3 separate regions of the Homo sapiens genome follow, and all the other regions are linked to region 1. The links come from fine-mapping of genetic effects on gene expression. A gene starts in region 1. Each other region holds a variant in brackets. All regions are shown on one strand. Distances are between the middles of the regions.

Region 1 (8,185 bases):
ATATCACTTTTATATATGGGAAAACACAAAATTTACTTATAATTTAACTATTTAAGATTTTAGATTATAATCTCTGATAGTTTATGCAAAGAAAAGCAGAGTTTAACATTATAAAATTCAATATAGTGAATAATGAACATCTTTCCATAAAGATAGGTATATCATTTCTTATAGCACTTTCTACAAAATGAAAATTTTTCTTGTAAAGGAAAGTTAATTAACAAATCAATGATACTTTTACTTTTCCAAGACTCAAGTAAAGCTAGAATTCTGTAAGGAACAAGACATTATCTCATCAACTATGACCCTAGTTCCTCCTGGAGTAGATTTATAAAATAATGGCCTTTCTCTACCACCATTCAGTTCCCTTTCTTCTAAATCAAAAAGAGCAGTGGTAGTATACTCTCTGAGAATTAACTGTACTTTTAGAATTGAGGACTCCAGATGAAATATACAGTAGGCTCTTGAATAATGTCATTTTATTCCACATCATTTCATTATAATGTTAATGAAAAAAATTGATTACCCACCCGGTCACTGACTGTGTGAGGTTTGCACCTTCTCCTCACGTCCACATGGGTTTTCTCTGGGTACTCCAGCTTCCTCCCACATCCCAAAGAAGTGCATGTTAGATGAATTGGGGTGTCTACATGGTCCCAGCATGAGTACGTGTGTGTGTGTGTAAGGGCACCCTGCAATGGAATGGTGTCCTGTCGAGGGTGGGTTGTGGCCTTGCATCCTGATCTGCCAGAATAGACTCCAGCTACCTAAAGCCCTGAACCGAAATAATTTGGTAGTTATCTTATTTGTCTTTCTTACTGTTTTGTAAATATATGTCTAGCTCACATTTATTTCAATGTTTAATACTAGGAATGTGTTGGTCTTTATTTAGAAGTTTGGTGATGTTTTTGTGACAAGAAATATGCCTTAGAAACTTTATTCTTATTTATATCAATTAGCCTATGGTAAAATTGGTTTTATTATGTCGTTTCACTTAAAGTCACAATTTCTAAGAACCTATCAACATTAAAGGATGACTTACTATATGTGTGTGTGCATATATATATATATATATATATCTGCACGTGTGTGTGTGTGTGTATAAAATAGAACTTATCTTTAGGCTATGGTGTATAAATCTAAGAAAGACAACCACAGCATTATTCTAAAACTTTAGATAAAAAAGCAGATACAAAAGTTAAATAGCTTAAAGTCCATGTAGTTACTAGCAAAGTAAAAAATATACTTTAGATCTTTCAAAATATAAAGCAAAATTTTACCTTTATTCGGTAAAATTTCTCCACATTAAATCCTGCAGCATTCGCCAACCTACGCAGATTTTCTTGAACCACTACCTTGGGATCTCTCCGTTTGGAACTACTGAAGAGATTGAATGAGCTAAGAGTTGGTATATAAGATATCCCACCTGTTCTTGTAGTAAATCCATGTATGAAAATATCTGTTGAAGATAAGCAGTGAAGATTTAAAAGATGCTATTCAAAATACCAGTCTCTCAATTAGACCTTCCCTGATCACTGCTACCTGCCCTTGTTATTTGGCTTCTAATTTCTATGGCATTTTGTACCTCCATATGTTCTTATGGCATTCTGCTTTGTGTTTGTTTTACACTCCCTATGAGATTGTTGCTCTTCAAAAGGTATATTGTGTCTCATCTGGCTTTGTTATATCTAATAGCATATAGCTCACAGAAAATACTGTTTAACCAAGAAGTAAGATTGATTGTTTTAAATTTTACTCTTCTATGAAGGTGCCAATGATTTGAAATTTCAGAATTTCTAAATAGAAGATTTTCAGTGTCATAAATCTCATTGCAAAGGAGGGCTAGATTATTTGTCTCATCATCAAATTTTTGTAAAGCAAATTTATTTATTTGGGGTGGCTTTGAAGGCTTTATCCCTTGACACCCCTGATACTACAGGGCCAAACATGACACCTCTGTGTTGCCACTGATGCTAATGAGTAATCAGCCCACAACAGTCAACAAAAGAAAGGAGGAAAAAAAGAGGTGAACTACCTCTGAAGAAAGACTAGTTTTCCATGTACAAAGTAAAAACAACAGTTAGTGGTTAATATACCTGGGATCAAAGAAGAAGTGATAATAGTTAATTTTCCTCTCAGTGCTGGCAGACTTCTCAAAAATGTTTCTATTTCATTCTGAATTCCTCTTAGTTCTTGAGCTGTGATTACGTTTATTTCAATGGACTGTTTAAAAAGCCCTCCCCTAAAAGTCACTTGCAAATCTTCAAATTCAAAATTGTAAACATCAGTGAAGAGTTGATCAATAAAAGCTTTCATTAATGTCTTCCTGTGCCTGGGTACAATTACCTTAATGCTGCTCAGATTTTTTTCATCAATTTTCTGTTTAATGGTATACAAAGTGGCAGCCATGCTGGGACAGCTAACAATCTCAAATTCTTCCAAGAGAGCTGATAATCCATTGCTTGTTTCTATTTCACAATTATCTTGTTCTCCATCCCTTTCATAGCTGATGTTACTGCAACACATTATACAGAGAAACTTGGCCTTGGCAGCATGGTGGTATTGGACAGCATTCAAAGTCTTCAGTAATGTCTGATGGCAGTTTTTTTGAGAGTTCAATTTCAAACCAAAAAGATCAATCAAAACAGCTTCTGCCATCCTTGAAAGAATACTTTTATGCCAAATAAATCACCTGCAAATAAAAATTAGTGTAAGAATATAAGATTATATAAATCTTATAGTTACAACAGAAATTTGTGGTAGATTAAAAACGAAGTAATTACACTGATTTTAAAATGTAACTAAAATAGTAAATCTAGGCCCCTCCCAGAAAAGCCAGTCTACTCTGTCACAACAGAACCATGACAGTGAAAGCAAAGCCATCTTTTAATTCGTTTTGTGAAAATGCTGGTACATCTTTCCAGCAGCACGACAGTTCCTCTGTTTTGTTTACACAGAACTTTTGAGTAAGGAATTACTTGTGGAGTTTAGACAAAGTCCTGTTTTTAAATTGCAGAGTGTCAACCTGTGTGATATATCATTAGTCCTGACATGATTGTCATATTAGGTCTCATCCTTTCATATGCGGGGGCTTAAGTTTACGAAGCTAAATGGAGCTGCACGCGAAATTCGCGTTTTAAGATGATAAAAGCTGAGATGGCTAATAGAGTTCCCTTCAGGATTTGCGCAGTACTCCACACTTAGCAATGACCACAAAAGCTATAGTGATTTGGATGAGACAGGCTTCCTCTCAACTTTCTTAATTCATTCTCCCCGTGCAGCTTTGCTCACCTCCAGCCCAGCCCTCCCACCCCAACCTGCGGGGCTCCGGTGACCCCCTTTGGTGACGCCCTTTGCCCCAAGAAGGTTTTCTCCTGCCGCTTCCCCTAACCTTTGCTCCCCATCTCTCGGGGCTCCCTCTGAGGTTCATTTAGCCAGTTTTGAGTGGGTGACCGTCCCCCCTTCCCTGTTCATTGTGAATTTCCGCCCAACGTGTGTCGCCGCCAGGTCCCTGTTCCTCCTACCCGCCTCGGCTCACGGGGCGCAGGCTGTGGCTCTGCACCTGCCCGGGCACCTCCACCGGCGGCTCACAGCCCATTCGGGACTTCCTGTCGGACAACGCACACCAGAGGCGATTCGGTCCTCGCCTTCCCGCTCTTCACCTTCGGTTGCACACCGGTCTACGGCGACCTCTGTGACAATTTGCCGCCCCGTCCCTCGTCCTGAGCCTCAACGAAATTGGGCAGCCGCGAGCGGGTCAGCTGGAGTCGTAAGCTCGGCCCAGCGCGACGACACCCGCCCCGCCTCACCTCGCCCACCTCGCCCACCTCGCCCCGCCTCGCCTCGCCCCGCCTCGCCCCGCCTCACCTCGCCCCCCTCGCCCACCTCGCCCCGCCTCACCTCACCTACCTCGCCGCGGCCGCACAGATTCCCCGCCTGATACCGTCCCAGGATCCCAGGGGAAACCTGACGGCCAGGTTCCCTCGTGCCAGCTGCCGGGAGGCGGGAGGGAGGTAGGCCAGGGCCGCCTGGCGTGCTTGGTGCGAACGCGGCGGGCCCAGCGCGAGAGCTGGGGAATCCCGGGATGAGCCAAGCGCCGCGAGCCCGCTGCTGCCTCAGCAGTTCCGGGTCTGGGCGGTCCGCGGAGTCGGCATCCCGCAGCCCCGGCGGCGTTAGAGGAACAGGAACCAGAGCCGCGCGAGGGCTCTCGCCCGGGAGCCAGGCGGGTTAGCGGGCAGGAGTGGGCAGGCCGAGTCCGGAAAGGGTCGCGAGGAGGCAGCTAGGGGCCCCTTGAGGAGGGATAGGGCGGCGGAACGACGGGCCCTGGGAGCGGGCGCAGGGCGGCAGGAGCTGCAGGTCTCCAGAGGGCACGGGGCGGGGAACTAGGGGCCCGGTTAGAAAGCCGGGCGGCGGGAACGGCGGGCACCGTGAGGGGGCGGCGGGAATGGTGGGTCGCGTGAGGCCGGGCTGCTGGAGCGACCTCGGGACTAAACCGCAGTCTCCCTTCTGCTAATGGAAGCCGTTTCCCAAGCGAGCTGAAGTCCGCGTTTCCGGTCTCTGAGGGACGCCTCGCTGACCCAGCAGTGTGGTCAGGACGCTGGGTTTCCTCACCGCAGCCCAGGGCCAGTCCCTTGTCATGCTAGCTCTTGGCAGCTTTTCCCATGCAGGGCTCAAGTCAGGGGCCCCCTCGAGATGTTTTAGTGTTTTTTTGTTGTTCATTTGTTTCCAGAAACAAGCTGTTGTCTCTCCTCCAATGTCTTTGTGCTGATTCTTGCTGACCAACACTCTTCCGAGCGCCTTCACTTGTGTTGACAACACGGATGTCCTCTATGGCCTTTTAAAATATGTGCCACTAGCAGGACTTAAGTAAAAGGCGCTCATCCCTAAAATCATGATAAAGGTGCAGTTTAGCATCCCTGATCTGTCCTCCAAGAATATAACGTTCATTTATTTGAAAATAGCAGTTAGGACATGGAAGGCCAGTGTATGGTAAAGGGAAAAAATATCCGACCTTCCAAGAGTAAGAGAAATGGTGCTTCCTGGGGAACTGGTTATGATGGAAGGAGAGGTCCCTTTTATCTTCATTGTTGCTCATTTGGTAGGCGCTAAAGAACCTTTGTCTCATAATCTCAGATAGCTGGGAATTTGGAAGAGCCCTCTGGGGTAGGCATGTTCTTGTGCTTGACTAGAGACTGGGAGCACTAACCCAGAATGGAAACCCACCCTTCAATAACCCTAGCACCAGTTATGTCAAAATTCATGTTTTCTTTGGTCATTTGTTAAAGAGCCCCGAGCGGTAGATGGTACACCCAATCAGAAGGTGCACTCTGCCCTGAGTTTGTTTATGTTAAATATCATTAGATTGGTGCAAAGGTAATTGCGGTTTTTGCCATTGACAAAGACCACAATTACTTTTGCACCAGCTTAATACCTCAAGCAAAACAGAGGTCTTTTAGTTACAAAGGTTTTAAACATTTATCTCTGTTTTTACAATGGTGGGATTCGTATTCTTTCATGCAAAAGTAGTGGCAGTAAAAAAAAAATGAAAAAGAAAATATTTCAAAAGAATGAAGTTGTCAGGGAAGAGAGTTTGTTATATTGTATTTGCATACCATTTCCTTTCACCATCTGGTCCTAGTGTCATGTCCTAACACTTCCTCATCCCATTTTCACTCTATCCTACTCCAGTGGTTCTCAGTCTTGGCTGCAAATCAGAACTGCAAGTGCAACTGAAAAAAAAAATAATTAATGTAGAGACTCTATCCCAAATATACATTGAATCAGAATCTCTAGGAGTTAGGCCTGAGCATGTTTTGCTTTGCTTTTTTGTTTTGTTTTAACCTCTATGTATGAGTTAGATGCATAATTAAGTTTGAAAAAATAAAAACACCCTATTCCCAAGCCACTCAAATAAAAGCTGTTCTTTGGAGGCCACATGATTTCATTCTTTACATTTGCAGTTCCTCTACTTAGCAAAATACCCTCCTTTTTATATGCCTAACTGCTACTTTTTGTTCAAGGCTCTTCAAGCTCAAACATAATCTTCCCTGAATCCCCATCCCTCATCAAGCAAAATTAATAGCTTCTTTACATTTTGTTCATATGAAGAAGCCCTCTCATAGATGTAGTCTGGGCCCCTAGCCAAGAAATAAGTGGAAAAAATGGTTAAATATTGAATTGTACACTTTATAAGGATGTACTTTGTGGTATGTAAATTATATCTAAAAAAGGCTTTTTTTATAAGAAAAAAGGTCAGTTAAACCACAGAATCATGAAAAAATATAACAAATACCTTAAACTGTATTCTAACCTAAAACAACTGTGTGTTCATTTGCCCATCTATTGAGAAGATCCAAGACCTTTTCTTTGCATGTAGTCTACTGATTGGAATTCTGCATACTATCTCTTGCATAAACCGTACCCATAAACCATCAGCTAAGATTTCCCAAGATTTTGTTCTTTTAAGGGGAAAATAACTTAAAGGCACCTGTGAAGCAATCTGAGGGCAGATTTATACTTTGTAATTTTTTTCTTTTTTGAGATGAAGTCTCGCTCTGTCGCCAGGCTGTAGTACAGTGGTGCGATCTCGGCTCACTGCAGCCTCCACAGGGTTCAAGTGATTCTCCTGCCTTAGCCTCCCAAGTAGCTAGGATTACAGGCGTGCACCACCACGCCCGGCTAATTTTTGTATTTTTAGTAGAGACGGGGTTTCACCATGTTGGCCAGGATGGTCTCGAACTCCTGACCTCTCTTGATCTGCCTGCCTCAGCCTCCCAAAGTGCTGGGATTACAGGCATGAGCCACCGCTATATTTTATAATCTTTTACAGTTAATCTCACATACTTTTGTTGGGTCTTTCCAAAATATTAAACATAGATTTTTAAAGAAACAACAATTTCCACACTATTTCATTGGTTTATACAATATTAAGTTACGAAAGCACAATATCAAGCACAACTGGCAAAAACAGGTTTGCAAACAAACACAAGTAAGTCATAAGATTGAACTAGTCAATTGATAGGAGCAGAAATAGGCAGATTTACTAGTTAACAGTTTCCTAGCATGATATGGGAATTAGTCACTTATGACTTACAAAGGTAATAGAGTGAGTTAAGTGGTTAGAGGTTATGTGTAGATAGGCTTAGACATAAGCTGCTGCGCCTCTCCATTTTAATTGACTGTGTGTCTTTCTGCCTAGAGTGTTTTGAGGGCAGAGATAGTGCCTGGCTATTAAGGGAACTATTGAAGAACTCACCAGACATTTTTATAATGCTATGTAAATCTTCTCATGAGAACAAGTATAATTTTAAAGAACAAAACAGTTGTTTTTAAGCCATTTACACTAAGGTTTATGGATCTTTCCAGAAAAAGCCATGTAGCAGATGCAAATTTCCTTGCTAAAAGCTTCTGTTAGTTTCCTAGGGCTAGCATAACAAATTGGCACTAACTGGGTGACTAAAAACAACAAAAACTTGTTCTCTCACAGTTACGGAGGCCAGATGATGAAACTGAGGTGTTGACAGCACCTTGCACATTTTGGTGGTTCACTTACCTCTTCTGTTGTCTGGTGACTTCAGGTGTTCTTTGCCTAGGGGCTAAGTGACTTCAAGCTCCATGCCTCCATCGTCAAATGGTCTTATTCCATGTGGGTCTGAGTCTCAAGTAGCCCTCTACCTTTCTCTTATAAGGATTCTTGTGTAGAAATAAATGAAGATCAATCAAATGAGAACAAGCAAAAGCTATTTATTCAGGCCTTGTAAGGGAGGGAGCCACAATCTCCTGCATTTTAGCAAAGTTGAAGGCAGGCAGAGGAGTGGGCATGCCCTGATTAGAGGCTCTCAGCATGAGGAAGCTGCAGGCAGGCTAACTAGAAGTGGAGCATTCTATGGCTTCTTTTTGTTAGTCTCAACTTGGAAATGGGGACAAAAGTTAGGGAAGATGCCAGTTATTAATCCAGTACTGGTCATTTGGGACAATTGTTATAGTTTGTCTCCTAGGATTGTTATTAGAGATAATGATTTAACTTTCTACAAGTCTAATTTATAGACTTCCTGGACTGGTTACTGTAGATAATGGGTTAGTCTCCTGGGTTGCTTGCTGCAGGTTGTGGGTCAGAGTTCTGTTTTTACATATGGTCTGGCCATTGTCCATTTGCATATTCAGTCACCTACCCTAAATCCAGGAT
Region 2 (8,185 bases), 65 kb after region 1:
AGGCCATAAGCATTTCTTTTTCTGCTAAATATTTTTTTAATTATACTTTAAGTTTTAGGGTACATGTGCACAACATGCAAGTTTGTTACACATGTATACACGTGCCATGAAGGTGTGCTGCACCCATTAACTCGTCATTTACATTAGGTATTTCTCCTAATGCTATCCCTCCCCCCTTCCCCCACCCCACAACAGGCCCCAGTGTGTGATGTTCCCCTTCCTGTGTCCATGTGTTCTCATTGTTCAATTCCCACCTAGGAGTGAGAACATGTGGTATTTGGTTTTTTTGTCCTTGTGATAGTTTGCTGAGAATGATGGTTTCCAGCTTCATCCATGTCCCTACAAAGGACATGAACTCATCATTTTTTATGGCTGCATAGTATTCCATGGTGTATATGTGCCACATTTTCTTAATCCAGTCTATGATTGTTGGACATTTGGCTTGGTTCCAAGTCTTTGCTATTGTGAATAGTGCCGCGATAAACATACGTGTGCATGTGCCTTCATAGCAGCATGTTTTTTAATCCTTTGGGCATATACCCAGTAATGGGATGGCTGGGTCAGATGGTATTTCTAGTTCTAGATCCCTGAGGAATCGCCACACTGACTTCCACAATGGTTGAACTAGTTTACAGTCCCATTAACTGTGTAAAAGTGTTCCTATTTCTCCACATCCTCTCCAGCACCTGTTCATCTCACTGGGGAGTGTCGGACAGTGGGTGCAGGACAGTGGGTGCAGCACACCGATCACAATTAGATGAATGGCTAACTAAAATAACCAATGCAGAGAAGTCCTTAAAAGACCTGATGGAGCTGAAAACCACGGCACGAGAACTACGTGACGAATGCACAAGCCTCAGGAGCCAATTCAATCAACTGGAAGAAAGGGTATCAGTGATGGAAGATCAAATGAATGAAATGAAGCGAGAAGAGAAGTTTAGAGAAAAAAGAATAAAAAGAAACAAACAAAGCCTCCAAGAAATATGGGACTATGTGAAAAGACCAAATCTACGTCTGATTGGTGTACCTGAAAGTGACGGGGAGAATGGAACCAAGTTGGAAAACACTCTGCAGGATATTATCCAGGAGAACTTCCCCAATCAAGCAAGGCAGGCCAACATTCAAATTCAGAAAATACAGAGAACGCCACAAAGATACTCCTCGAGAAGAGCAACTCCAAGACACATAATTGTCAGTTTCACCAAAGTTGAAATGAAGGAAAAAAAGTTAGTTGCCTTTTTACATCATTTACTATGTCCTTTGGTGCACGGAATTTTGACATTTTGATGTAGTTCAACTATTTATCTATTTTTCATTGCCTGTGATTTTACATCATATCTAAGAAATCTTTGCTAAATCCAATGTCATGAAGCTTTCCACCATGTTTTTTCTTCTAGTAATTTTATTGTTTTAGCTCTTATGTTTAGATTTTTGATACTTTTTTTTTCAGTCAGAGTCTGGCTCTATCACCCAGGCTGGAGTGCAGTGGCACAATCTCGGCTCACTGCAACTTCTGCCTCCTGGGTTCAAGTGATTCTCCTGCCTCAGCCTCCCAAGTAGCTGGGATTACAGGCATGTGCCACCATGCCTGGCTAATTTTTGTATTTTTAGTGGAGACAGGGTTTCACCATGTTGGCCAGGCTGGTCTCGAACTCCTGACTTCAGGTGATCCACCCACCTTGGCCTCCCAAAGTACTAGAGTTACAGGTGTGAGCCACCATGCCCAGCCCAATATTTGATACATTTTGAGTTGATTTTTGTATGTGGTATAAAAGCAGGGGCCAACTTCATTCTTTTGCAAGTAGATACCCAGTTTTCCCAGCACCATCTGTGGAAGGCTGTTTCTTCCTCATTGTATGGTCTTGGTCCCCTTGTCAAAAATGTTTTGACCATCTATGTGAGAGCTTGTTTCTTGGCATTCTATTCTATCCTGTAGGTCAATGTGGCTGTCTTCATGCCAGAATAATCTTTCGTTTGTGACAGAAGTAGCAATTATTTTCCCCAGCTTGTCATTTGTCTTTTTACTTTTTTATATTACTTTTGCCATGCAAAAGTTGTTTTATTTTTATGTAGTTGAACTGATCAATTGTTTTACTGTTTTTGTATTTTGTGTCATAGTTAGGAAAGTTTTTCTCATACTCAGCTTATTAAGAAATATGTCAATGTTTCCTTCTAGTACATGAATAACACCATGTCAATTTATCTAATAATTGTTATCTTCAATTCTACTACAAAGTGTCCATATAAAAAGAGAAATTGACTCCTTTTAGTGAATCCATAATAAGAAACCAAATTGAAAAACACTGCAAAAAGACTGATGGCCAAGCTCGAACGTAATGTTTTGTTTATAATAATGATGGCAGTGATGATAATGACAGCTATTGTCTGGTGACTTCATAATCAGCACAAGGCACTGTAGGAGATCTTTGCATATACTAAGTACAGAAAAAGAAAAGCACAGCTTTTAAGAGCTTTAACTTCGGATTTACATAAACTTGAGTTCAAATATGTGTTTTATTAGATTTTATTCCAAACTCTCTCACTTACTGGTTGTGTGACTTTGGGCGAGTTTCTTTTGTTCATTAAATCTCATTTTAAAAATCTGTAAAATGGAAATAATAATAGGATTACTTCATGGAGTTGTAAGATTAAATAAGATAATGCATATAAAGCCCTCAGTGATTAGCATTATGTATTTAATACACATTAGCCACTGTTAATCACCAGTTTAGAAATGAAATTACTAAAGTGATGAGAAATTAAATAAAGTCATTTAATTAGTAAGTGTCAGAACTGGAATTCAAACCCAAGCTTTAATCTGTTTTCACTCCAAAGTTCTTACCCCTCTTCTACATCAGTAGAAAGTATTTTTTATATGAATACTGATTTTTAGAAAAGCCTTAGAATAGAGCATACTGGAATGTTAAGGAAACAGCTTTTTTTAAAAAAAAAAATTAGAAACAATGGCTTTATTTATTTATTTATTTATTTAATTTTTCTGAGACAGAGTCTTGCTCTCTCACCCAGGCTGGAGTGCAGTGGCGCAGTCTTGGCTCACTGCAACCTCCTCCTGCTGGGTTCAAGCAATTCTCCTTCCTTAGACTCCTCAGTAGCTGGGATTACCGGCATGTGCCACCACACCCAGTTAATTTTTGTATTTTTAGTAGAGAGGGGGTTTCACCATGTTTGTCAGGCTGATCTCGAACTCCTGACCTCAGGCAATCCGCCTGCCTCGGCCTTCCAAAGTGCTGGGATTACAGGTGTGAGCCACCACGCCTGGCCAGAAACAATGGTATTTACAAAAGAAACTTAGTGTACAAAAACATAGTGCATTACCCCATGATCATTGCCTCTTTGTCCACAATCAAATGGGATGTATTCAAAATTTTTGAGCTGAGAAGTTAGAGAAGAAAAGGACTGAGAACGTGTGGCTAGATTGGGTAATTAAAATCCTATGGCTGATTGTTAAAGCAGAAACCACAGTATGTGTGGTTAAGGAGCAAGTGTATACCAGCAGCATCGGGGCTGGTGGAGGCTGGATCAGGCTAGCCAAGATTAGACAAGCTTTCTGGGGGCCGAACAGGAACCAGGAGAAGCCCTAGAAGGGAGAGAGAGGACTGATAGCAGGGAGCATTTATTCCTCATGACTCATGTTTCCATTAAGGGAAGAAAATGTCAAATCTACTCCCCAGGAATGGAAAATTATGAGAGGAATGCTTTCAGCTT[A/C]TCTCTGATTTTCCTCTTTTCCTAGTAGATGACTGATTTATCTTTTGCAAAGTTGGAAGAACACTTAACCCCTGACTCTCCATAAGCCAGCCTGCAAACCAAGTGCAGAGAGAGTGCATTCTGGGCTGCTGTTGTAGGAGAAAATTCAACTCAGCAAGGCTTTTGACCAAACATCTAAAGACATGTTCCCCAGTTGGCTTTATCAATAATGAAGTTAACATTTTGAGGTTGATTCTTCCAAACATGAGAGGGGGAGAAAGTAGTGTGCAAGGGGTCAACAGGCAGAAGCTGAAGCAGGTGAATATCCAGGTGGCATCAGTATGCTTAAGTAACAGTAATGCAGGCAGAATCCCATCCCAAGGTGAAGCATTTCCACAGACACTCTAAACTGTGAATCTAACTGCACTAGTTGCTTTCTTGTGACTAGATTTAGCCTAGAACCTAAGTGCAAGCTCACCCCCTTACAGGTGGAATTTGAGGCCTTAGGTGTGAGAAATAGAAGGATAATATGCCTCAAACCAAAAGAGTAGAAAAAGGGAAATTACATGTTTATTGCACTTTTGAGAAATGAGATAGTAAATGAAAGGCTAGAAATACAATAATTTAAGAGGGGGATTTTCTAGAGCTTGGGCAATAGGACTGTTGCAGAGCTCATGAAAAGGGTGACACTGAAGATGCAAGAAAATAGAAGGTAATTCATGCAGTAGTCCTGGAAAGCCAGGAGGGGACAGGATCCATACAGAGAGGAAGGCATAGCCTTGGGAAGAAAGAGCATTCCTGAGACAGGATGAGAAAAATAAGAGAACGATCAAAGGCAAAAGAAAATTTTAAAGTGAGGAGGAAGGAAATCAAAGGAGCTCTTGTTTAGATAGAGGGTGAGGATAACAGCTAAGGGTAAAAGCACAGAGCTAGTGCAATTGAGAATGAAATGATGTGAACAGACATAAAGCTACTGGGAAAAAAGGGATTGACATTAATGATCTAAGTAATGCAGATCAGAGTAAATCCATGGTGAGCCCACTGAGCTCAGCTTTGCCATGGTTGTCCAGCAATGTTCTGTTGTCCAGGATTAGGAGGCACTGCAAAAGAATGGTTGGCAATTGAATTAATACATTCAATATGTCAAATGCATTTTAATTTTTCTTTTTTTCTTCTTTCCTCCCTCCCTCTCTCCTTCCCTCCCTCATGCTTTCCTTCCTTTCTTCCTTTATTTGATTTTACTTGTAACTGACTTGAAACTCAAACTTTTCTTTTTTAATGAGTTTGGATTTTTACCACAGGGTCATCATGTTAAACAGTTATTCTCTCAATATGGTAGTAGAGTTGTAAACATAGAAGTTATAAAAGGTAACATACCTGGGAAGTAGCTTGCTTACTTTGTTGGCTTATTTTAAAACCAAATTCAACATCTCAGGTTACAAGTGCAGTATTAATATTTATTGAACACCTAAGAAGTGCTAGACATTTTCTAGGGCACCATACAAACATGTAACTTGATTTAAGAAAGTATTCCAATTGGTATGATTCTGGACCATTTATTCAACAAGTGTACATCTACTAAGGGAATCTCTGCAACATAATGTGCAAGGCATGGTCCTCTCCTTCCTGCCACTAATACCTGAAGCAGATGAAACAGTTCAGCAGCACTGAAAGAGTTAATATAATGAAATACCAAATATGTTTCACAAATTTTCAAGGAGTGAACAAGATGAGCTATCTTTGAGACGATGGGCAGGATATGGATGAAATAGAAAGGAAAGGCTGGGATATTTCAAACCATAGCCTTTGCGTGCTGGAACAACCACGAAACTGAGCACGGGGGTCTAACTATCATGGAGAAGGAATAAAAGAGAATCTTTGAGTCCAAGCTGTATGGAGACTCAGAGGCTGGGTGGGAGTCGGGAAGCAGGGAAACATGTCTCTGAGGATCTACACCATTGGTTCATGTGCTACTCCCTGCGTTGGTTTAGACATGAAATCATAACTATGGCAGGATTCTTTATAAAGTGTCCTATGAATATTATTATTTATAATCATTCCATCATTATAATGCTTTTCAGAACATGAAGTCTTTAAGAATCAGTGTTGTCTGTAATCATTAAAGTAAGTCCCTCTCCAAAGCAATCCTTAGCTGACCAACCCATTAGTCCAAGTTAAACTGGAAACTACTGACTCTGGAGTAAGCCATAAGGCCTTTAAGAGACCTGCAATTATTTCTTTTTTAGCCTGTGAATATGCTAAATAAATATGAAGAAGTGGCAATTTAATTTTTAAAATTTTTCTCTTAAAGGCAGACACTAAGTTGAGATGTTTCTATTGTTTATAGGTATAAATGCTACTAATGGGTTGATGCCATTTTAACATGCCTCTTGAAAGTGAAAAGAAATGGCCTGGTAATTTTTTGTTTTGACAAGTGCTTGAACAAAACCTATCATAATATATCTTATAACCCTCAAAGCTATGGCAGGTCATATGTAAGACCAGACTGACCCTGAATCAGAAAGCCCCCGGACAGTTGGGTGGGTTGTAAGGGATCTCAGGAGACGACTTAGTCCAGATCTACTCACCCCTCCCAAATCCCCTGCTCTTCACACAAAGAGGCTGAATAGTAGCCTGGTCCTGGCTGCCACACTCCTGACCTACACCTCCCAACATACCTAACACTTTGACAGATTCACTCATTCATATAACAAGAACGTACCTGTGGAGAAGAAATTCAGATCCACAGTGAAAAGACAGACATAGTTTCGGCAGTCATGGAGCTTCCAGTTGAGCATGGAAGGCAGATATGTAAGAGCTATTAGGCTAATTATTTAATTATAAATATGGTGAGTTCTCTGCTTCCCCTCTTACACAGCCCACATAAAGCACAGGGAAGAAGGCAAGCATATGCTGTATAAAATATGCTGTGATTCATTTAAGTTACATTCATGTTCTGTGTCCAACAGCAAAACCCAATCAGCTCAAGATTGACTAAGTTCCATTAGAAATCAAAGCAGAACAGCATATGGCTTTGATATATAATTTATATTTTTTCCTCACCATTTTATTTGTCCTTTGCCCTTTCCATATTCATGTCAATAGCCACTACTTCAGGTGTAGAAAGTAAAGTAGCCTTTGCCCCTTCTGGCTTTTGTTTCTAAAAATAAAATGTAAGCCCATAGAAGAACTTACACTGTTTATAGAGGATACATAAGGGAAAAAATATTTGCAGGAACAAGTGGAATTTGAAAAAAGTAGGAGAGAGAGAGAGGTTTCCCAAGAAAGGGAGGCCTGGGAGCAGGGAGGAGTCAAATGCAGCCTCCAGGGAGGCAGTGGGAGCCTAGTGCAGAATGGCTTCAGGTAATAGTTGTGACTGGGGAGGAAGGAGGACAGGGAGGCTTCAGAGGGCAGCCAGACTGGAAGGGACAAAGCACATAAGCACATTCTCTTTAGGATACAATCAGCAAACCACTGTCTTCACCCATGCCCTGCTAGGTGTATCCTCCCTACCACTTGGCAACATCTCAGGGAGATTCCATAGCATTTCTGGTAATTTTCAACTACAGCTACAGTCTTATCTTTAGGTACACATAAGTCTTACTTTAATTTTTTAATTTAAACTAAAGCTTCTCTCCTCTTAACTGAAGCCTGACTTCTGGCTTTGTTTGGGTACCAGGAGTAGGAAGTGCAGGCTGTTTCTACTGCTGTCTTCTTCTAAACTCCAGGTCCCAATACCACATCCCCTCCTCCCCTCCAGTGGGGAAGAGGAGGGCTGAAAGCAAGAGAAAAGGCCTTTTTACTTAGCTTTTGCTGTTTGTGGTTCTGTCTCAATGGTCATTAAAATGTAGTCTCTGTTGGGTTGTATTTGCAGATTATTTAAATGCCTCCCCACCAAGGAATGCTAATCTGCACCATTCTCTATGAGACACTTTCCAAATGACCTCTTACCAGCCTCCTCAGGTTCTGTCCTCTAGTGATGACCCACAGTCTCCTTCTGCTTGCTGGGGGCCATTCACTTTAACAGGCAGCCTCTGGAGATGGCTCAAACCTGGCTCCTCCCAGTATCCACTTGGTGGTGTGCAAAATCCCAGAGCAATGGCACATTTGGGGCTGGAGGAGGCTTCCAAGAAAGGCAGAGGATAAATTCTCCTCCAAAAAATGGATGATGGGAATCCTAGAGTCAGAAATTAAGTTCGGTTATAGAAAAGAAATGGGTATGTCTTGCACAGTTATGTTCATGGTTTGAGAGTCCTACCTGCTATGCAAAAATAGGAAGTCACCTGCATGAATGTTGTCCCCTGGAATCGTATAACACATGGCCCTAAGCATCTATTAATGTAGGCCAATAAGGTTTTGTCCATTGCAATACATTTCCCTGGACTTCTTTGAAATAGTTGCAGAGAAGAAGTCAATTGCCATTATCCTACAAGAGGATGATGGCAGGATATCTAACCAGCTTGTAACCTTATAAATTATG
Region 3 (8,185 bases), 170 kb after region 1:
TTTTGTATATACATCATTTGTCAGATATGTGTATTTTAAATATTTTCTTCCTTTTTACCCCAGTAATTTTATATCCTTATTTTAAAAACTATAATTCTCATAGACAGGCTATTTGCTTTTTAAAGCCACTCTGGGAATCTATGGCTTGCCGTTTCATTTTCTTAATGATGTCCTTTGAAGAGCAGAATTTTTTTATGTTTTGTTTTGCCTAACCCTTAGTGGGTTTTGTGTATGGAAAGATCTTTACCATCCTAATGTCATAAAGGTTTTTTCTTCTATCAGCTTTATATTTTTAGTTTTTATATGTAGCTCTATGAATCGTCCTGGGTTACTTTACCTATATATTGTGAGGCCTATTTATTCATTACAGATTTACATTTGTTTCAGCATCATTTGTTGAAAAGATCACACTTTCTGTCTGTATTGAATTACCTTGGTGCTTCTGTTGAAAATTAATTTGTCCTATTGTTAGCTGCACCAAATCCATATGGGTCTGCAGCCACCTTAATTCTTGCCTCCTCAGAAGAAAGAATTTGACTGAGGGGCCATAAGGCAATGCAAGAGACTAAGGCAAGTTTTAGAATAGGAGTCAAAGTTTATTAAAAAGTTTTAGAGCAGGAACAAAAGGAAGTAAAGTACACTGGAAGAGGGCCAAGCAGGTGACTTGAGAGATTCAAGTGCACTGTTTGACCTTTGCCTTGGGGCTTTATACATTGGCATGATTCCAGGGTCTGTGTTACTTCTACCTTGATTCTTCCCTTAGGGTGGGCTGTCGACATGCGCAATGGCCTGTCCGCACTTGGGAGGGGCTGCATGCCCAATGTGCTTATTGAAGTTGTACGCATGCTCACTTGAGGCATTCTTCCCTCACCAGACAAATGTTCCTAGAGCAAGGTCATATACCAGTTAAACGTGCCAGTTTGCCTTTTAGTGCTCATGCTTGAGCCCACTCACCCAACTCCTGAGATCTTATTAGGAAGCCGCTGATCATCAGCTTCAGGTGTTCTCTATCTACTGGGAAACTGCCTTTCCTGGCACCAGCTACAACCAATTATTTTAGAGAGGCAGTTTAAGAACTGTCTAGCCATCACCTGATGGTGTCCTGACATTCCTAGTATAAGGGGGACCCCTCTCCCACTCTGCTCATGTCTGCCTAACTACCTAGTCTAACAATATATGTCCACATACATATCTTAATTCCTTATTCCATTTAATTGATCTTTTTTTCTGTCGTTATATCAGAACCACATTTTCTGATAGCATTTTTGTAAATTTTGGAATCAGGTCCTGTAAATCTTTCTACTTTGTTCTTGGTTTTTTTTTTTTTTTTTTTTTTTTTGAGACAGAGTCTTTCTCTGTCACCAGGCTGGAGTTCAGTGGCGTGATCTCGGCTCACTGTAACCTCCACCTCCCGGGTTCACGCCATTCTCCTGCCTCAGCCTCCCGAGTAGCTGGGACTACAGGCGAGCACCACCACGCCCAGCTAATTTTTGTACTTTTAGTAGAGACAGGGTTTCACCACGTTGGCCAGATGGTCTCGATCTCTTGACCTCATGATCCGCCCGCCTTGGCCTCCCAAAGTGCTGGGATTACAGGCGTGAGCCACTGCGCCCCACCCTGTTCTTATTGTTTTAATAACTATAGGTTCTTTACATTTCCATACAAGTTTTAGACTCACCTGTCAATTTCTGTAAAAATCCTGCTGTGATTTTCATTGGGATGGCATTGAATCTACAAATCAACTTTGGGGCAGGTCACGGTTTAATGTTGAGACTTCCCTGAAACATGAAACATCTATTCATTTACATAGGTCTTTATTCTTTTTCTTCAATATTTTTTGGTTTTCCGTATAGAGGTCTTGCATATTTGTTATTATGTTTTTTCTCTATTTAATGTTTTATTATGCAATTTTTAATAGTATCGTTTTAAATTTCATTTTCAGTTATTCACTGCCGGTATATAGAAATAGAGTTGATTTTCATATATTCACTTTCTGTCATTGGGCCTTACTAAAGGAATTTTTCAGTTCCAGTAATTTTATGTGTATGTACATTCCTTAAAATTTTCACTGTAAGCAACCATGTTGTCTGGGTCGGGAGTGAGGGTGGGGGCAAAAAACAGTTTTACTTCTTCTGTTCTAATGTTTATGCCATATATATATATATATCTTTCTTGCCTTACTGCACTATCCAGGACTGGTAGTTCAATGTTGAGTAGAAGTGGTAGGAGTGGATATTTTCCTGACTTTAGGAGAAAAGCATTCAATATTTCAACATTAATTGTGATATTAGAGTGAGATTTTTTTTAGATAGTTTTATCAGGTTCCCTTCTATTACTAGGAGCTTGTTTTTTTTTTTTCTTTCTTGATCATGTGCTCAATTTTGTAAAATGTCCTTTCTATATCTCTTACAATGATCATAGTTTTTATTTTTACCCATATATTGTTAATATTTTTGTTAATCAGATACAGTTTTGAATGTTGAACTAATCTTGTATTTTTGGGAAAAATACCATATGGTCAAGCTGTATTATCTGTTTATGTATTACTGGGCTTGATTTGCTTAATATTTTGTTACAGCTTTTACATCTTTCTGAGTGATATTGGTTTGTGATTTTTCTTTTTTGTAATATTGCTATCACATTTTGTTATTAGGGTGATAATTGTAAATTGTGTTGTGGTATGCTCCTTCCGCCTCTTTCTTTCTTTTTTTTTCCAAGAACCCAAATTGGCCCTGCTGATATTCATTACTGTCTCTTTTCTATTTCATTGTTTTCTGCTTTATTTTATTGCTTCCTCCTTTCTAATTACTTTGTATTAATTTATTCTATCTGTAGCTTCTTAACTTGGTAGCATAGATCATTCACTTTAAACCTTTCTTACTTTTTTAAATATAAGCTTTTTAAATCTACAGATTTTTTTCTAAGCATTGCCTTAGTAAATCTCACACATTTTTATATGTTATTATTATTTAGTTCTAAATATTTTCTAATTTCACTTATGATTTCTTTGTACCCATGGATTGTTTAGAAGGAATATTCTGAGAGGCCTGGTAATTTCTAGACCTCTTAATATTGATATCTTATTAAATACTTTGTAGACAGGAAACATATTCTATCTGATTTTTAAAAATTTATTAAGATGTTTTTTATTCCAATATATAGTCTGTCTCATTAAATATTTTTCAATGTACTGGACAAGAATGTGTACTATATGAATTTTGCTTTGTTGAGTTTACTATTCAAAATATATTTTAAGTTGAAGTTCACTGATAATGTTCAAATCTTCTGCATTCATACTATCCCCTTGGTCTGTTGTTTTATAATTTCCTAAGAGAGGGGTGTTAAAAATCTCCAACTATGTGAATGGTTTCTATTTTTTCCCCTTATTTCTACTAAGTCTTTGTTTCATATATGTTAAAATTCTTGAGCTTTATTAATGAAACGGCCCTCTATAGTAACACCCCCTTGTCATTATGAAATTACCCTCATTTTCTCTGGTAATATACATTGGCTTGAAGTCTACTTTGTTTG[A/C]TATTTATATAGCCATACAGGCTTTCTTATATGTGGAATATTTGATGTATTTTTTTCATTCTTTTTTTTAAACTTGCATATATCTTTACATTTAAAGTGCATCTTTTTTAATAGAGCATGTATTTGTTTGCTTTCTTATCTAGTTTAAAAATCTTTGCCTTGTAATTGGAGTGTTACATATATATATATTACAAATATATATATATATAGAGAGAGAGAGAGAGAGAGAGAGAGTTGTTGTTTGTTTGTTTTTTGAGATGGAGTCCCACTCTGTCACTCAGGCTGGAGTGCAGTGGTGCAATCTTGGCTCACTGCAGGGGTGTTACATATATTTAATTTAATTTTTGATATTTGTTTTTAAGTGTGCAATTTTGCTATTTGGTTTCCATTTGTCTCCTCTATTTTGTTTCTCTGTTCCTCCTTTCCTGAATTTTTTAGGTTAAATAATTTTAGTATTATGTTTTATATCCTCTGTAGTCTTTTACCTATATCTTTCATATTATTGGATAATATCCAATATCCAATTATGTTACTGGTCAATATTAGGCTTTGTTAGGGTAGAACTGTTTTTGTTTTGCCTTTAGTTGTAAGGAAAATAGTTCTTCAAATAAGTATTTATTCTTAACTCATGGCCCTTCTGTGATGTCACTAGAAAGCCCAAGTTATTTGCCAAGCCCCCACTATCTGGCAGGACTTAAATTGCAAATTCAAGATAATAATTATTAGCAGCTGAAATATACAGCTGCTGAAATCTCTATTTGGTTCTTTCCGCCTTCCATTGGTTCGTTTTATCCTGTGCTCTTTGGAGTCTTGCCCCATGCATGCATGTACGTACAATTTAAGTGATCAGCCAAGGATTTAAATGCGGGATTCAGGTCTTATTTCTACGCATTTCTTCGTTGTGGATCACCAGTCCCACCCCCTGTTGCTTTTTGCAGTGCTCTGGCAGCCTCAGACTCTGTCCTCTGACTCTTCATACTAACCAGACTGGATTTCTGCTTGAATTCCACCTATCTTGTCCTAAGGGAAAAGATGTATAAAAGTAGATCTTACCCAGTGTGTTGTTTTTTTTTCTTTCAAAGGTCAGTTTCCTTCTTCATTTGGTTTCCCTTCAGTGCCTTCAAAAAGTTGTTTTTATGTTTTGTGTGGAGCTTGTACCTATTTTCAGCAAAGTGTTAGTCTGTTATAAGCTACTCCACCATTATTAGAAGTCAGAACTTCTCTGAGGGTCTTGATTGGTGGGCTTATACCATTTATAATGACTTTAAATACTGTTACATCAGGACTTATTCCTGTTATCTTAGTCATATATATTTTCTGTTTATTATGTTTTCTTTTTGTTTTACTTTTTCTTCTTCTTTTCTGATTTCCTTTGTACACATCACATTTTCTTTTGTTTAAAAGACACTAGTTCAACATTATGTGATTCTCCCTAACTTATTAAAGTGCACTCTTCTTTTTTATTTTTCTCTATCGGTGTCTTAATTTGTTATCCATAATTCTATCAAGAAGAATACAATGGCATACCTATTCTTGGTGTCTTTCACCATCCCTGTTATTTTTAGTTCTTTGCTACTAAGGTCATTTTTTTCAGGTTTGAGCATGAGGAAGGGATACAATAACCTGTTCTAGTTTACCATTTTGCTATAAATTGCAAAAAGCTGTTTTTTAAAAAAATATATATATAATGTACATATATGTCATTTTTTAAAATAGGAAAAGCTAATAAAGAAATAGCTTCTAAAGGAAGGTTACTATAGAACTGGTAAGCATAGGGTATTTTTAGTAGTCAGTTATTCCTTTTTGGGCAAACATTAGGGGAAACAAAACAGGTAAAGTCTTCATTTGGAAATTAAGGTAAATTCTCTTAACTCCTAGCATATTGCCTGTTTGTTATATATTTTGCTTTAAATTTGTCATCTACTGAATAAAATCTACTCTCAAGAAATGTTATTGAGATATTCTATAGAACAAAGGAATAGGACTATGAATAGGACTTCTGAAGTAGAAAGGAAGATAAGCGTATAACATTCCCAGAGACGCTTCAGAGAGGTATCTAAGAATACTATCTAAAGCTGCCTGGATTTATGGCCCCGAAAAGCAGTCTTCACTCAGGGGAATAGCAACATTTCTGGTTGCCCATAAATGGAAGGGAAAAACTAAAAGACAGTGAAAGGGATAAGGGGGAGAAAATCTAGATTGTTGGCTACAATGTCTATTCCATACTCTTTATGTTTCTACAGAGGACAGAATGTACACACTGCACCTGAGGAAGGAAAAATATGGAAAGAACACTACCCATTTTTCTATGCCTCCCAAGTCATTCCTCTCCTGGATTTAAAGTTACCTATCTTAGTCTGTGCCTGGTACTATAACAAAATACCATAGAATAGGTAGTTTATAAACAGTAGAAGTTTATTGCTTTCTGTTTTGGAGCCTATGAAGTCCAAGATCAAGATGCCAGCAGATCTGCTGTCTGGTAGAGGCCTGTTTTTCATAGATGGTGCCTTCTGTGTGTCCTCTCTTGACAGAAGGGGCAAAAGGGCTTCCTCAAACTTTTTTTTTTTTTTTTTTTTTTTTTTTTTTGAGACAGAGTCTCACTCTTGTTGCCCAGGCTGGAGTGCAATGGTGCAAACTCAGCTCACTGCAGCCTCTGCCTCCCGGCTTCAAGCCATACTTCTGCCTCAGCCTCCCGAGTAGCTGGGATTACAGGCACCTGCCACCACGCTCAGCTAATTTTTTTGTATTTTTAGTAGAGATGGGGTTTCACCATGTTGGCCAGGCTGGCCTCGAACTTCTGACCTCAAGTGATCCACCCACCTCGGCCTCCCAAAATGTTGGTATTACAGGCATGAACCACTGCGCCCAGCCCAGACTTCTTTTATAAGAACTCTAATCCCATTTGTGAGAGCTCTGTCCTCATCACTTAATCACTTCCTAGAGGCCCCATCTATTAATACCAAGTTTCTACATATGAGTTTTGGGGGGACACATTTTGACTATAGCATTACCTGAAAGGTGAGTTACAGAGTAGGAATTCAGCATGCCCCGTTCTTCCAGATTTGCCTGCCAGTAGTTTTCCATCTATGCCAATGGATAAGTTTAATCCTGCAGTAGAGTATTAGCCAACCCCTCTGGCATCAGATATAAAGCTATATTCTTCAATCAGACTGAACAGTAAAGCATTGATATCTTTTTATCCCCTATCTGCCTGCTTCATTTGCCTTTTAATTTGTTTTGGAACTTGTGAGAAGTGCTATTTATCTATCTATTTAAACCTCAACAAGATATTTCTGCATTCAGTCAATTTGTATGATGATCAAAATGAGAGTAATATTTCAGAGCACTAAAAAGAGTACAAATGAACCATTGATACGTGCAGCAACTTGGCTGGGTCTAAAGGGCATTATTCTGAGTGAAAAAAGCTAGTTTCAAAAAATTTCATAGTGTATAATTCCATTTATATAACATTCTTGAAAGGACAGAATTATAGAGATGGAGAACACATTAGTGGTGGCCAGGGGATAGGGATAGGATGGAGGGAGTAGCATAAGGGTGTTCCCTGGTGGGGTTAGAAGAATGCTGTTTCTTGATTACAGTGATGGTTATCAGAATCTACACAGGGACTACACCTATGTAAAACTATATATATACATACATACATACACATGTACAAATGAGTGCATACAAAAGCTGGCAAAATCTGAATAAGGTCTGTAGTCTGTATAAGGGTATCATACTATTGTAGTTTCTTGGGAAGATTATTATAATTCCAAAAGACACAATTCCAAATGCCATAATCCCAAAAGATAAAATTCCTTCAGTCTAAAATCCCCAAAATCACAATCCTGAAAGATAAAAATCCCAAAAATATAGTTCTGGAAAAAATAATTTAAAAATTCTTTAAAAGATATGTATTTGCATTTTAAAAGGGGATTTATTTATGAAACATATAAAAACATGACAGAACACTTCATAGGTTACCTTACACAATAAAATACACAATACTAACATAGATATTTTGTGTAAGCACTAAGGTATACACACAATAATTGCATGGGTATAACAGTTATGAGCAGATAAACCCTATTCATAAAGAAATAGGTAAAAAGGGAAATAATGAGTGCATATCATTGTGGTTTGTAACCGTGTGCACCCAGCTTTGTACCTGTGGTCATCTGAAATACTGTGATGAACAATCTAAGTCTTTTGAGGAGATTAGTTAAAAAACTAAGATGGGTCACCACAACATATACAGTCACACAAATTGCTGAGATCTTGAGAAATGTTATTTTTTACAAATGCACGTGTACAAAAAGTACATCTCTTTATTGAGGAAATTTCAGTGTTTTTATGTACATGCACAAATGCTTACAAACAAAAATTAACATTGTGATAATGCACTTTCGTGGAGTCTCTTGCAAAAAAATGCGTAAAACTAATTGGAACCCTCTAAAGGTCTCTACAGTTTTGTACCTCCAGTATTGAAATGATGTGAAGATGAAATACATAGCAAGTGAATTGTAGAAAATAATGCTGATAATTTTAAAGAGTGAAAAACTAAAATAATAAGAAAAAATCTTTTAAAATTCCATGTGTGAAAAAGTGTATTGCAAGAATAGATTGTGGACAGTTGCCTGGAGATAGTTTATAA

Which allele goes with the higher level. Positions count from the first base shown, and alleles are read on the strand shown. Sizes are in standard deviations (SD) of each study's normalised expression. Not every link is listed here.
As copies of A replace C in region 2, the expression in atrial appendage of the gene that starts at base 3,740 in region 1 goes up (moderate effect, 0.70 SD a copy in GTEx).

What was found. PIP is the estimated chance that this variant, and not a neighbour inherited with it, causes the effect.
Region 2: its variant is fine-mapped to the expression of LACC1 in atrial appendage (GTEx, PIP above 0.99). The same link has a PIP of 0.9 or more in left ventricle.
Region 3: its variant is fine-mapped to the expression of LACC1 in whole blood (INTERVAL, PIP above 0.99).

Annotation. Positions count from the first base shown.
Region 1 is chr13:43,875,459-43,883,643 of GRCh38, reverse strand. LACC1 (laccase domain containing 1) reads right to left here and starts at 3,740. Exons shown (of 7, transcript NM_153218.4): 1 at 3,525-3,740; 2 at 2,097-2,692; 3 at 1,281-1,459. The coding sequence starts at 2,658. CCDC122 (coiled-coil domain containing 122) reads left to right here and starts at 3,904. Exons shown (of 7, transcript NM_144974.5): 1 at 3,904-4,013. RefSeq lists a silencer at 3,853-4,002.
Region 2 is chr13:43,810,885-43,819,069 of GRCh38, reverse strand. It overlaps LOC124903166 (a long non-coding RNA gene), which reads right to left and starts at 7,888. Exons shown (of 3, transcript XR_007063773.1): 1 at 7,657-7,888; 2 at 6,428-6,488; 3 at 4,254-4,805. It also overlaps a transcript of CCDC122 not described here. The variant A/C (reference allele first, on the strand shown) is at 3,727.
Region 3 is chr13:43,700,886-43,709,070 of GRCh38, reverse strand. The region is part of intron 1 of ENOX1 (ecto-NOX disulfide-thiol exchanger 1); the gene reads left to right. Among named protein-coding and RNA genes, the nearest start is that of ENOX1, 82 kb to the left of the region's middle. The variant A/C (reference allele first, on the strand shown) is at 3,532.